2 linked regions of the Homo sapiens genome follow. The protein of the gene in region 2 interacts with the protein of the main gene of each other region in a biochemical or structural test. Each region holds a gene or a part of one and is shown on either strand. Other genes may lie near its edges.

Evidence for each region. The genes of interacting proteins can lie anywhere in the genome.
Region 1: the proteins of TNRC6A (region 2) and PAN2 form a complex in vitro, tested with the Homo sapiens proteins (one study listed by BioGRID).

Annotation. Positions count from the first base shown.
Region 1 is NC_000012.12:56,330,970-56,338,523, reverse strand, and holds the start of PAN2 (PAN2-PAN3 deadenylation complex catalytic subunit PAN2), read left to right. Parts: upstream 1-4,523; 5' UTR 4,524-4,662; intron 4,663-4,805; exon of another isoform or gene 4,806-5,037; intron 5,038-5,315; 5' UTR 5,316-5,429; coding exon 5,430-5,711; intron 5,712-7,554. UniProt on the Homo sapiens protein: Catalytic subunit of the poly(A)-nuclease (PAN) deadenylation complex, one of two cytoplasmic mRNA deadenylases involved in general and miRNA-mediated mRNA turnover.
Region 2 is NC_000016.10:24,823,628-24,826,727, reverse strand, and holds the end of TNRC6A (trinucleotide repeat-containing gene 6A protein), read right to left. Parts: coding exon 2,921-3,100; 3' UTR 510-2,920; downstream 1-509.

The sequences.
Region 1 (7,554 bases), on a different chromosome or scaffold from region 2:
TATACCCCTACCCCACCCCAAACCTAATTTCCTCACTTCCTCCTGCTTGAGGAAAAAGCAAAACAGAGAAACATCCATTCATCTCCCAATAGGATGGTGAGCTGTTTGCAATGAAGTTTGATTCCTACCTGATGCCCCCTATTAGGAATAAACGGGCTTCTTTTTCTCAGTTGGAAACAACATTATTTCAACTGGATGGTCCTGGTTTCATGGGAGAGAATGCGCATGAAGGAACTTGGAGAACTGGGAAGCCAGTATGAGGTCTTATTGCTCCCCATTTCAGGCCTCACAGTGGAGGTTAGAAAGGCTCTTGTGGGAAGAGGGTTATTGACTAAGAACCACCTGACTCCTCAACCCTAGTGGCCCAAGATTTCATAGGCTCTATAAGAGTTGGATGATGTTTTTTTCAGGACTAGTGCAAATAAGGCCTGGAAGTTCAACTTAGACATTCCAGCACCTAGTCCCATGGCCTCATTCTGACGTCATCCAAATTGTTCTGGGACCCTCCACTGGGGTCGGGGCAGTCCCAGCTTTGGACCCCATGGCTAGGAAGCCCAGGAGTTCTGGGTAGTCGAAGGTGCACTGTCAATGACTCTGGCTGGTCCTTCAGCTTGTTGCATCCATGGGTAAAATCCACTGACACCGATTTCATCACCCTCCATGATGCAACATCGAGTGAAACAGCTAAGAGTGTGAGGTTGGGCGTGGGAGTGGAAGGTGGTCCAAAGCCGGGACTGCCCCGACCCCAGTGGAGGGTCCCAGAACAATTTCGAAGACGTCAGAATGAGGCCATCGGTGACCACACAGCTGGCTCCCAAAGCCTCCCCCAAGAGGTTGACCCTTTTCTTCTGAGAAACTTGTCCTGAATGGAGGTCTCCCTTCCCTTAGAGCTATTCAAAACTGCCCAATGACACTTCTGGTTCAAATATTATGATTCTGTAGGTATGAGCTAAGAGAAGAAAAAAAAATATTACGATTCTAAGTTAAATCTACCAAGGGCCGGGTACAGTGGCTCACGCCTGTAATCCCAGTACTTTGGGAGGCCGAGGCAGGCGGATCATGAGGTCAGGAGTTCGAGACCAGCCTGGCCATCATGGTGAAATCCTGTCTCTACTAAAAATACAAAAATGAGCCAGCACGGTGGTGGGCGCCTATAGTCCCAGCTACTCGGGAGGCTGAGGCAAGAGAATCGCTTGAAGCCAGGAGGCAGAGGTTGCAGTGAGCCGAGATGGCGCCACTGCACTCCAGCCTGGGTGACAGAGCAAGACTCTGTCTCAAAAAAAAAAAAAAAAAAATGGAAATCTACCCTTTAGATTAAACATTTCCAGCATCAGAGAATTATCTGAGTTTGGGTGAGAACTGTTTTGCCTCTCTCCCTAATAAGGTGGACACCAATGGAATAAGGAAAGGGGAGGGGGCAGGATAGGGAGTTCACCTTACTTGTGTACAACGTCTCCTATGTTCTTCCCATCTCTGGTCCCCATTCTGGGAGCCCTAAAAGATAAGAGATGAAAGAAAGATGAAAAGGAGGAGGAAGTAGAGCCTGGGGGATGGGATGAGAGGGACAAGGGTGAGTTGGAGGCACAGGGCTCTGCCTCTTTGTTTCACTTCCTGGTGCTGCAGGAGTTGGGTAGGAAGAAGGGTTGGTGGGGAGATTGTGGGACTGTTGCGTGGCAGGAACTACATCCAGGGCTACAACTGACCTGGAGCTATAAGGAGCCCTTGACGTCAGCTGGGCCTAAACCGTTATGCAAATCGCATTCACAAGACACTCCTAGGCAGGTCTTTCCAGTTGTATGCCTAGACTCCAAATCAGTTGAAGTTCCCCCAGGTGGTTAATAATGATGGCTAATATATCCAACTCTCGCTTAATGCCAAATACTTTGTCTAAGCACTTTACATGTACTAAACTATTTAATTTTCACAACAACCCTTTAAGGTAGATACTATTACCCTATATTACAGAGGAGGAGGCTGAGGTGCAAAGATAAGCAATTTGCCCAAGATCACAGAGCTTCTAAGTGGCTAGAATTCCTTTTTTTTTTTTTTTTTTTTTGAGATGGAGTTTCGCTCTTGTTGCCCAGGCTGGAGTGCAATGGTGCCATCTCATCTCACCGTAACCTCTGCCTCCCGGGTTCAAGTGATTCTCCTGCCTCAGCCTCCCAAGTAGCTGGGATTACAGGCATGCACCACCATGCCCGGTGGCTAATTTTGTATTTTTAGTAGAAACAGGGTTTCTCCATGTTGGTCAGGCTGGTCTTGAACTCCCAATCTCAGGTGATCCACCCGCCTGCGGCCTCCAAAAGTGCTGGGATTACAGGCATGAGCCACCACACCCAGCTTAAGTGGCTAGAGTTCTAATGCAGACAATCTAGCATCAGATCCTGCATTCTTTTTTGTTCTTGGTTTTTGGGGGGTTTTGTTGAGACAGGGTCTCACTCTGTCACCCAGGCTGGAATGCAGTGGCACCATTTCCGTTCACTGCAACCTCCACCCCTGGGACTACAGGCACAAGCCACCATCCCGGTCTGGATCCTGAATTTTTAATCACTGCATTACACTGGATACTGTACGCCAGGTATGGTGGCTCATGCCTGTAATCCCAGAACTTTGGGGGGCCGAGGCAGGAGGATCGCTTGAGCTTAAGAGTTCAAGACCAGCCTGGGTAACGTGGCAAAACCCCACCTCTACAGGAAAAAAAAAATTATCTGGGTTTGGTGGCCAGTGCCTGTAGTTACAGCTAGTTGGGAGGCTGAAGTGGGAGGATCGCTTGAGCCCAGGAGGTTGAGGCTACAGTGAGTGAGAGGGCCAATGCGCTTAAGCATGGGCAACAGAGTGAGATCCTGTCTCAAAAAAAAAAAAAAAAAAAGGCTGGGCGCGGTGGCTCACACCTGTAATCCCAGAACTTTGGGAGGCCGAGGCAGGCAGATCACCATCTAATATTACTGTATTAGAAACAGTAATTACAGCTGAGCTAAATAATCTATGTCATGGATGCTCTTGTGTCTCCTCACAGTATCCTTTTTTCTTTTCTTTTTTTTTTTCTTTTTTTTGAGACGGAGTTTCGCTCTTACTGACCAGGCTGGAGTGCAATGGTGCCATCTCGGCTCACTGCAACCTCCGCCTCCCAGGTTCAAATGATTCTCCTGCCTCAGCCTCCCAAGTAGCTGGGATTACAGGCTCCCGTCACCAGGCCCGGCTAATTTTGTATTTTTAGTGGAGACGGGGTTTCTCCATATTGGTCAGGTTGGTCTCGAACTCCCGACCTCAGGTGATCCGCCCACCTCGGCCTCCCAAAGTGCTGGGATTACAGGCGTGAGCCACTGCGCCCGGCAGACATGGATTATTTAGCCCAGGTTATTAGGGATCTGTAACTCTCATGGGTCTGTTAAGTCTTTCTCAATTTGAGACCTCAAGATGGAGATTTCTTAAAGTGTAGGAACTGTCTATGTCTCTCAGCATCCACCTTTTTCGGAGATTCTATATCTAATGACCTGCGAAGTCAGATCAAATCAGTTTGAGAGACCATCTGTGTTTTTCTCTTGGTCTAGGCTCTAGGTAGGATCTCTGACTGGGTATAGGACCCCACCCCTCTGAGTCCTAGAAATTTAAATTCTTGGTTCCTTTAATGAAGGTCTATTTACCAGCCTTTATTGAGAGAAATGTTATAGAATTGAATCCTCCATGAGGAATGTCTCCCATCAGAGTCCCTTTATGTGGCCTTTAGAAACAGTAATAACAGCTGAGCTAAAGTGCTCTGAGACATCTCACAACCTAGACCCATTTCAAAGTAATTAGAGTTCACAGGACCCACGAATCCTTCAGAATAACAAGTCCCAATTTGCCATGCTCATCCCCCTCTGAGGGATAACGTCCAGCCAGCCTCAAGAGCTAGGGGAATTTGATAACCAGGGGCATCTTGTTACCCGGGAATGTTACCGGGGTCTCTGGGGAGGGAACAATCACGGATGGGAGTTTCAGATGGATGCCTGTAGAAGATGCAGCCACTTGGACTGTGTCAGGAGTCCGGCTCCCGCTTCCTTTTTTTTCTCTCCCATATCTGGAAATAATAGGAAATGCCAGCGAGTTTTGGGGGCAACAGGGTCAGAGGTGGCGGAGTGGCTCACTAGGGCACCGCAGGAAGAGGAGGTAGACTAAGCCCCGCTGGGAATACCCAACAGCGACTCCTAGTGCTTTGCCTTGTGTGTCCCTTATTTTAGAGTTCCTAAAGTTATAGAAAGCATAAAAGTTTGGTTTTCAAACCTAGACGTAATTTTGTTCAAGAAGACTAAAAACAGAGTTACTTTCTAACGCCACCCAACAAGTCCGGCGTCTGGCTGCGTTTGTCCCACCGGCGCCCCGTAACCTCTTTTTCCGGCGCGTGCGTCACACGCTCTCTCCTGGGGTCGCCGTACCTGGCTCCTTCTGATTGGCTTAGATGCGCCCGGAGCCCTTCTGATTGGCTAAAATATGCCCCGAGCCCTTCTTGATTGGAAGAAGCGCCTCGGACCCCGGTCCTTGGCGCCGTAGTGGTTAGGTTGAGCCCTAGGCGTGGGGGAGAACTGGGGAAACTGGAATTTCCCGCGGAGCTGACAGCGCTTGCGCTCCCCCTACTCGTTCTAATTCCACGCGCTCCAAAATATCCGCCATGGAGAAATCTTGGTAATGACCCATTCCCCGTAAGCATCCCAGGAACACATCTGACCCTTGCCCTATCCCCCTCCTCACCGCTGCCGTGGGAGAATTCTAGATAACCGATTTTTCTGGTTCCCCCAGAGAATTCTGGGTAACTAGCCGTTTCCGTCACCTTCCCCTGCCCCCGCCCCAATTGTGGGTAACTGGCCATTATTGTTTTCCTCTAGAGAATCCTGGGTAGCTATTGGAGAGGATTCTAGGAAACTGACTTCTCGTTCTCCCCACCGTCCAATCCACCCGTTTTCACCCCCAATTCTGGGAGAAAGCACCTTAAATCCCTCTACCTAACTCCAACCCCCGCAATTCTCGCTCCCTTCACCTGATGATTCAGGGCTGAACAAGGCAAGTGAGCAGTCCGAAGTGAGAAGAAAGGGAAGTCAAGGATTAGGTTAGATAATGGGGTGGTGGAGAGTACAGAGGGCCTAGCGGAGGAGGGATAGGGACAACAGTTCTACCACCTCCACCCCCACTGCCCATCCCTCCCCCGCCTGCTTCATCCTTTGGCTGGCAGTCTCATCCCTCATGCCTGCCTCATCTCCCTCCTGCCCCCATAACCTAGAAGACCCTAAGTACCAGTACCTGGGCCTACCCTTGACTCAGCTACCTCTTTCCCCTTACAGGCCAGGATGTCCATTCTAGGCCCATCGGTGCTGTCTTGCTGAAGGTTGGGTCAGGCATCTAAAGGGACTGTGGTAAGGGAGGGTGTGACACAGGTGTAAGCTGCCATCGTCATCATGAACTTTGAGGGTCTGGACCCTGGACTGGCAGAATATGCCCCAGCCATGCATTCTGCCCTGGACCCTGTCTTGGATGCCCACCTGAACCCAAGTCTGCTACAGAATGTGGAGCTGGACCCAGAGGGAGTGGCCTTGGAGGCTCTTCCCGTCCAGGAATCAGTGCACATAATGGAAGGTGTCTACTCTGAATTGCACAGCGTGGTGGCTGAAGTGGGTGTACCTGTTTCCGTCTCCCACTTTGACTTGCACGAGGAGATGCTGTGGGTGGGGAGCCACGGGGTAAGAACTGTACCCCTTTGTGAGGGTTGAAAGATGTTGAAGGTCTTTATCTGGTCTTAACCCAAGGAAGCTGCTTTGCAGATAGCCAGTACCGAGGAGTTGTAGTGATGAGACAGCTGGGTCTGGTTGGAGGGATAAAGGGAGAATCTAGGATCTAGGAGTAAATGACATATTCTTTCTCAGGAGGCATCCCTTTTTTTTTTTTTTTTTTTCGAGACAGGGTCTTGCTCTGTCGCCTAGGCCAGAGTGCAATGGCGTAATGTGATCATGGCTCACTGCAGCCTCAATCTCCTGGGCTCACACAATCCTCCCACTTTAGCATCTCAAGTAGCTGGGACTACAGGCATGCGCAACCAAGACCAGCTAATTTTTAAAAAATTTTTTAGTCTTACTATGTTGCCCAGGCTTGTCTCAAACTCCTGAGCTCAAATGGTCCTCCTGCATAGAGCTGCCAAAGTGCTGGGGTTACAGGTGTGAGCCACGGCACCTGGCCAGCATCCCACTTTTGTCACAATTGCCCATCCAGTGTTTTGATTTATCTTGATAGTTGTACCCATCACTTAGTCTGTAGCCATCCAAATCTAATCTCAATTGCTGTTGCCCCACCTGTGTTTTCTATTTTTATTATTATAGAATATTTAATGAATGATTCTGCATATCTTCCATTGAATCATTTTGTCTTCTCTGGCTGATTTTAATATCTCTCAGAGCAGTTATCAATCTTAATTTTTTAAAATCTGTACCCGTATTGCCAATATGCTATGGTGCCCAAAGACTTTGTAAGAAATACTGTGCTGTCCGGCCGGGACCGGTGGCTCACTCCTGTAATCCCAGCACTTTGGGAGGCTGAGGCAGGCGGATCACGAGGTCAGGAGATCGAGACCATCCTGGCTAACATGGTGAAACCCTGTCTCTACTAAAAATGCAAAAAATTAGCTGGGCATGGTGGCAGGCGCCTGTAGTCCCAGCTACTCGGAAGGCTGAGGCAGGAGAATCGCTTGAACCTGGGAGGCAGAGGTTGCAGTGAGCCGAGATCACGCCACTGCACTCCAGCCTGGGTGACAGAGCGAGACTCCGTCTCAAAAAAAAACAAAAAACAAAAAAAAAAAAAACGCTGTCCTTCATTTACTGATTGACTTCTTTGGTCATGAATTGTTTTTCCATTAGAAGGGATGAATTTTTGTGTGTGATTCATTCAGTTTAATAGGCAGTGTCTACTGCTATGCTAGGCACTGTGAATAAAGCTAAATAAAACATAATCCTTGCCCTCAAGGAGTTTACAGGACAGTGAGGTAAAAAACATATACAAAACCAGATAATTTCATGGTACTAAGCGCCAGTGTGAAAATCTGTACTGGATGCTGGACAGGATGGAGAATAGTCAGAAAGGGCATCGAGGAGGAAGTAACCCTTGAACTGAGTCTTGCAACATGAGTAGAAATCAGGTGAGAAAGATGGGAAAAGGCGTCTTAGCATAGGATAAACAAAGATTCCCAAGATACTACAAAGCTTGCTGAGTACAAAATTCAGGAACTACAAGCAATTAGGATTTACCGGACTGGAAGAGGTAGACATTTATTCATTCAACCAGTGTTTTTTTGAGCCACATGCTAGGTGTCAGACCTTGCCCTAAGGTCTAGGTTTGGAATAAGCAGTAAACAGAAAAACATTACAATACATCAGGTGTTGATTAGTACTGTTAAGAAAAATGCTGGCTGGGCATGGTGACTCACACCTGTAATCCCAGCACTTTGGGAGGCCGAAGCAGGCGGATCACCTGAGGTCAGGAATTCAAGACCAACCTGGCCAACATGGTGAAACCCCCGTCTCTACTGAAAATATA
Region 2 (3,100 bases):
GCTTGAGCTTTGGAATTTGAGACCAGCCTGAGCAACACAGTGAAACCCCATTTCTATTAAAAATACAAAACTTAGCCGGATTCGGTGATAGGTGCCTGTAATCCCAGCTACTTGAGAGGCTGAGGGACGAGAACCGTTTGAGCCTGGGAGGCAGAGGTGACAGTGAACTGATATCCAGAGTGAAACCCTGTCGAAAGAAAAAAAAAAAAAGAAAGAAAAAGAAAGAAAAAAGAAAAAGGAAGAAAGTAGAAAGAGAAAAGGAAAAAAGAAAACAAAGAAAAAACGTGTTAAGTGCCTGTGTTAAAAAGTTTACCCTGACTCTTGGTGGCTCTGCGTGACTAGAAAGCCCCGAGCCATGGGCCCAGCATGGTCAGCTGCAGGTCTGTGCCAGACAAAGGGCAGCATCCAGGCACTGGCAGTCGGGATTAAGACCGAGAAGTAAGGGTGGCTTAGGGAATAGAGCTGTATTTATTTAAGGACTAGGCAAAGATCCAAACCACTTTAAAAAATTTTAAATCAAACACTTTATTTCCACATAACAAGCGCAAAAAACTCCCAAACACTTTAACAATACAATTAACGCAGTTATGAATTATATACTACTCAAAGCCCCAAGGTCAGAAGGTCAATCAGCTTAACGCTCCAAACATTTCCAGACATGGTTTTTCAAAGCTACCTTTGGTTTTTGGAAAAACCAGTATGGAAGTCAATATACATTGAACGCACTGAATAACATTTGCTTATAGTAAGGTGTCCGACAACATTAGCTCACACCTGGCAAGTTGGAGCATGATCTGAAGTCATACACTGAAATCCATACACAGGTTTCGCCCCCGAGCTCCTGCAGGGAGAAGCGAGGGCCGTGAAGGGGGAAGAAAAGGCCAGTCCGGGTGTGGCGTTTCTCGCTTTGTAACAGAGGTATGAGAGTTTAACACTAGTACACTGTCAAGTCATTAAGCTTCATGTTCCACATGGTTTCTTGCTGAGGCTTGAGATGGGCACAAATGGTGGGGAAGATGAAGTCACAGAAGAGTTTTGAGCAACAAGATCCCAAAGATGCTCAGAGAGGGTGGGAAGGAGCAAGCTACAGTTTCCCATTGTTCTCACATTATTTCAGGGTGAAATTGTGATGAGTTCAGATAAAATGTTCAAATATTTGCTTAGATTTTTAATCGGTTGCTCTATGAGAACCCTCATACATAGCAACTTTGAAACTTTCATTATAAAAAAGAGCCTACAAATAAATTCACAAAAAGGAGACAATTAATGTTGAGCAGCCAAAAAGTCATGGTTTATTATATCTGAAGAAATTTCATAATTCAAACACAACCAAACTGTACATTTTACAATCACATTCTATTTGTAAACAGTTAAAAGCCACTGACTTCTTTTGCATCTTAGGACACAAACAGTTAGAATCAAGGCAATGATATGATGGCAAATTCTGTACTGTTAAAATTTTTACCCTTGTTTAGTCTCTCTTCTTTGACTAAGCAAGCATTATAATACCATTTGTGGGCAAAAAAAGGGGGGAGGAAAGAAAGTTTAAAATGGTGTAACTCGTTAGTTTGCAACAACATTTAAAATTTTCTTTATACAACAAACAACTCTGTAAGCCCAATACCTTGGTTACAGTATGCATAGTTACTGATTTCGGCTTTAAGGTACAACAGTTAAACATTAACACAGTCACGAGAGAGCAGAAACATATGGAGCCACTTGATGGGATTACAAAAAATTATTACCTATTGATTATTAGCAAACCATCATCACTCACTAATAAAAAGACAGCATCTGAAAGCAGAATGTCAAACTCCAGCTTTAAGCGTTTTTTTGTTTTTTCTTTTTTTTTGGCAGAGAAAATTCTTTAACAGAGCAATATGTAGTATCAGTGCTAAAAGTTGGGGTTTTTCTTTTTTTCCTCTAAGAAACTACAAGGAATTTTTTTTTTTTTTTTTAAACTGGGGAACTGGTTTTCCTGAGAACCATGCTCTTTGATTTGGGACAGGAATAGAAAAACAAAAGAACATGGCCAAATGCTGCTCCTTTTTCCCAGAGATAGAAAGCATCTTTTAAATCATCCTCCATTTTTTTTTTGTCTTTTACATTTTTTTTAAATGATGGAAGAGTAAACATTTTTTTTTCTCAAAAAACAAACAAAAAAATCTGTAAACAAGAAGGTTCAAAGTGAGAACCTCCAAAACAAAATGGAAAGCCTATTCAAAGTGCAGGGCCCGTCCTGGGTGGCAGGTGGGCTGCAAGTCACAGCTGTGGCCACAGTTTTTCAAACTGCAGAGCGAAATTCTTTAGTTTTACAACATGAAAAAACTGGTGCAACACTTTCATTAATAATCCTAAGTCAGCATCCTAACTTGATCTTTTAAACTCCACGATACCACAATAAGGTAGGCAACATCAAGGCATAGTAGAGAGCGCACGCCTCCTAAGAACACCCTTGAGTAAACATTGACACTGGGACAGCTGCCCCCCATACTGCCGATGAGACGGAGAGAACATCATTCAGTGCAAAGGGAAAAGCTCATACGTTATCAGCCCAAAAAATGGTTTTGCAAGAGAGAAAAAAAGGGGCGGGGGGGGGGGTTGGGGAGGAATAGAAGGAAAAAAAAAAAAAGAATCCAAAGGCTAAACATGATGAATAGACACAAGCGAGCTCATTCTCTACGGTTTAGCATGTATGGCGCTATTTGGGAGTGTAAATAGAGTAGATACCTTTTCACATTATAATATTGGCCTGCATGATTCAAGTATTCAAACTGATATGTTTTGGGGAAAACAAAGTGGAAAATGTGCAGAGAATAGCTGTTCCCACAGGCGGCCCCTGGCTGCAGGCGGCGAGCCCCACTTAGTGCTCCTTTCCCTCGCGTCTGAGGTCCCGGTCGGTGAGTCTGCATCTACACTGTTACATGGACTCTCCACCCCCACCCAGGTGGTCAACAGAAAGAAAAGCGTTAATGGGAGATGGGCTGCTAATTCCTCGGGGGTCGCTGCTGCTTGGGGGACCCCACAGGCTTGTGGAATAATGCGGGGTCCCCCAGAGTGAAGTGCCGTGAAGGTCTCCACAGTTAGTTCCCGACAGCCC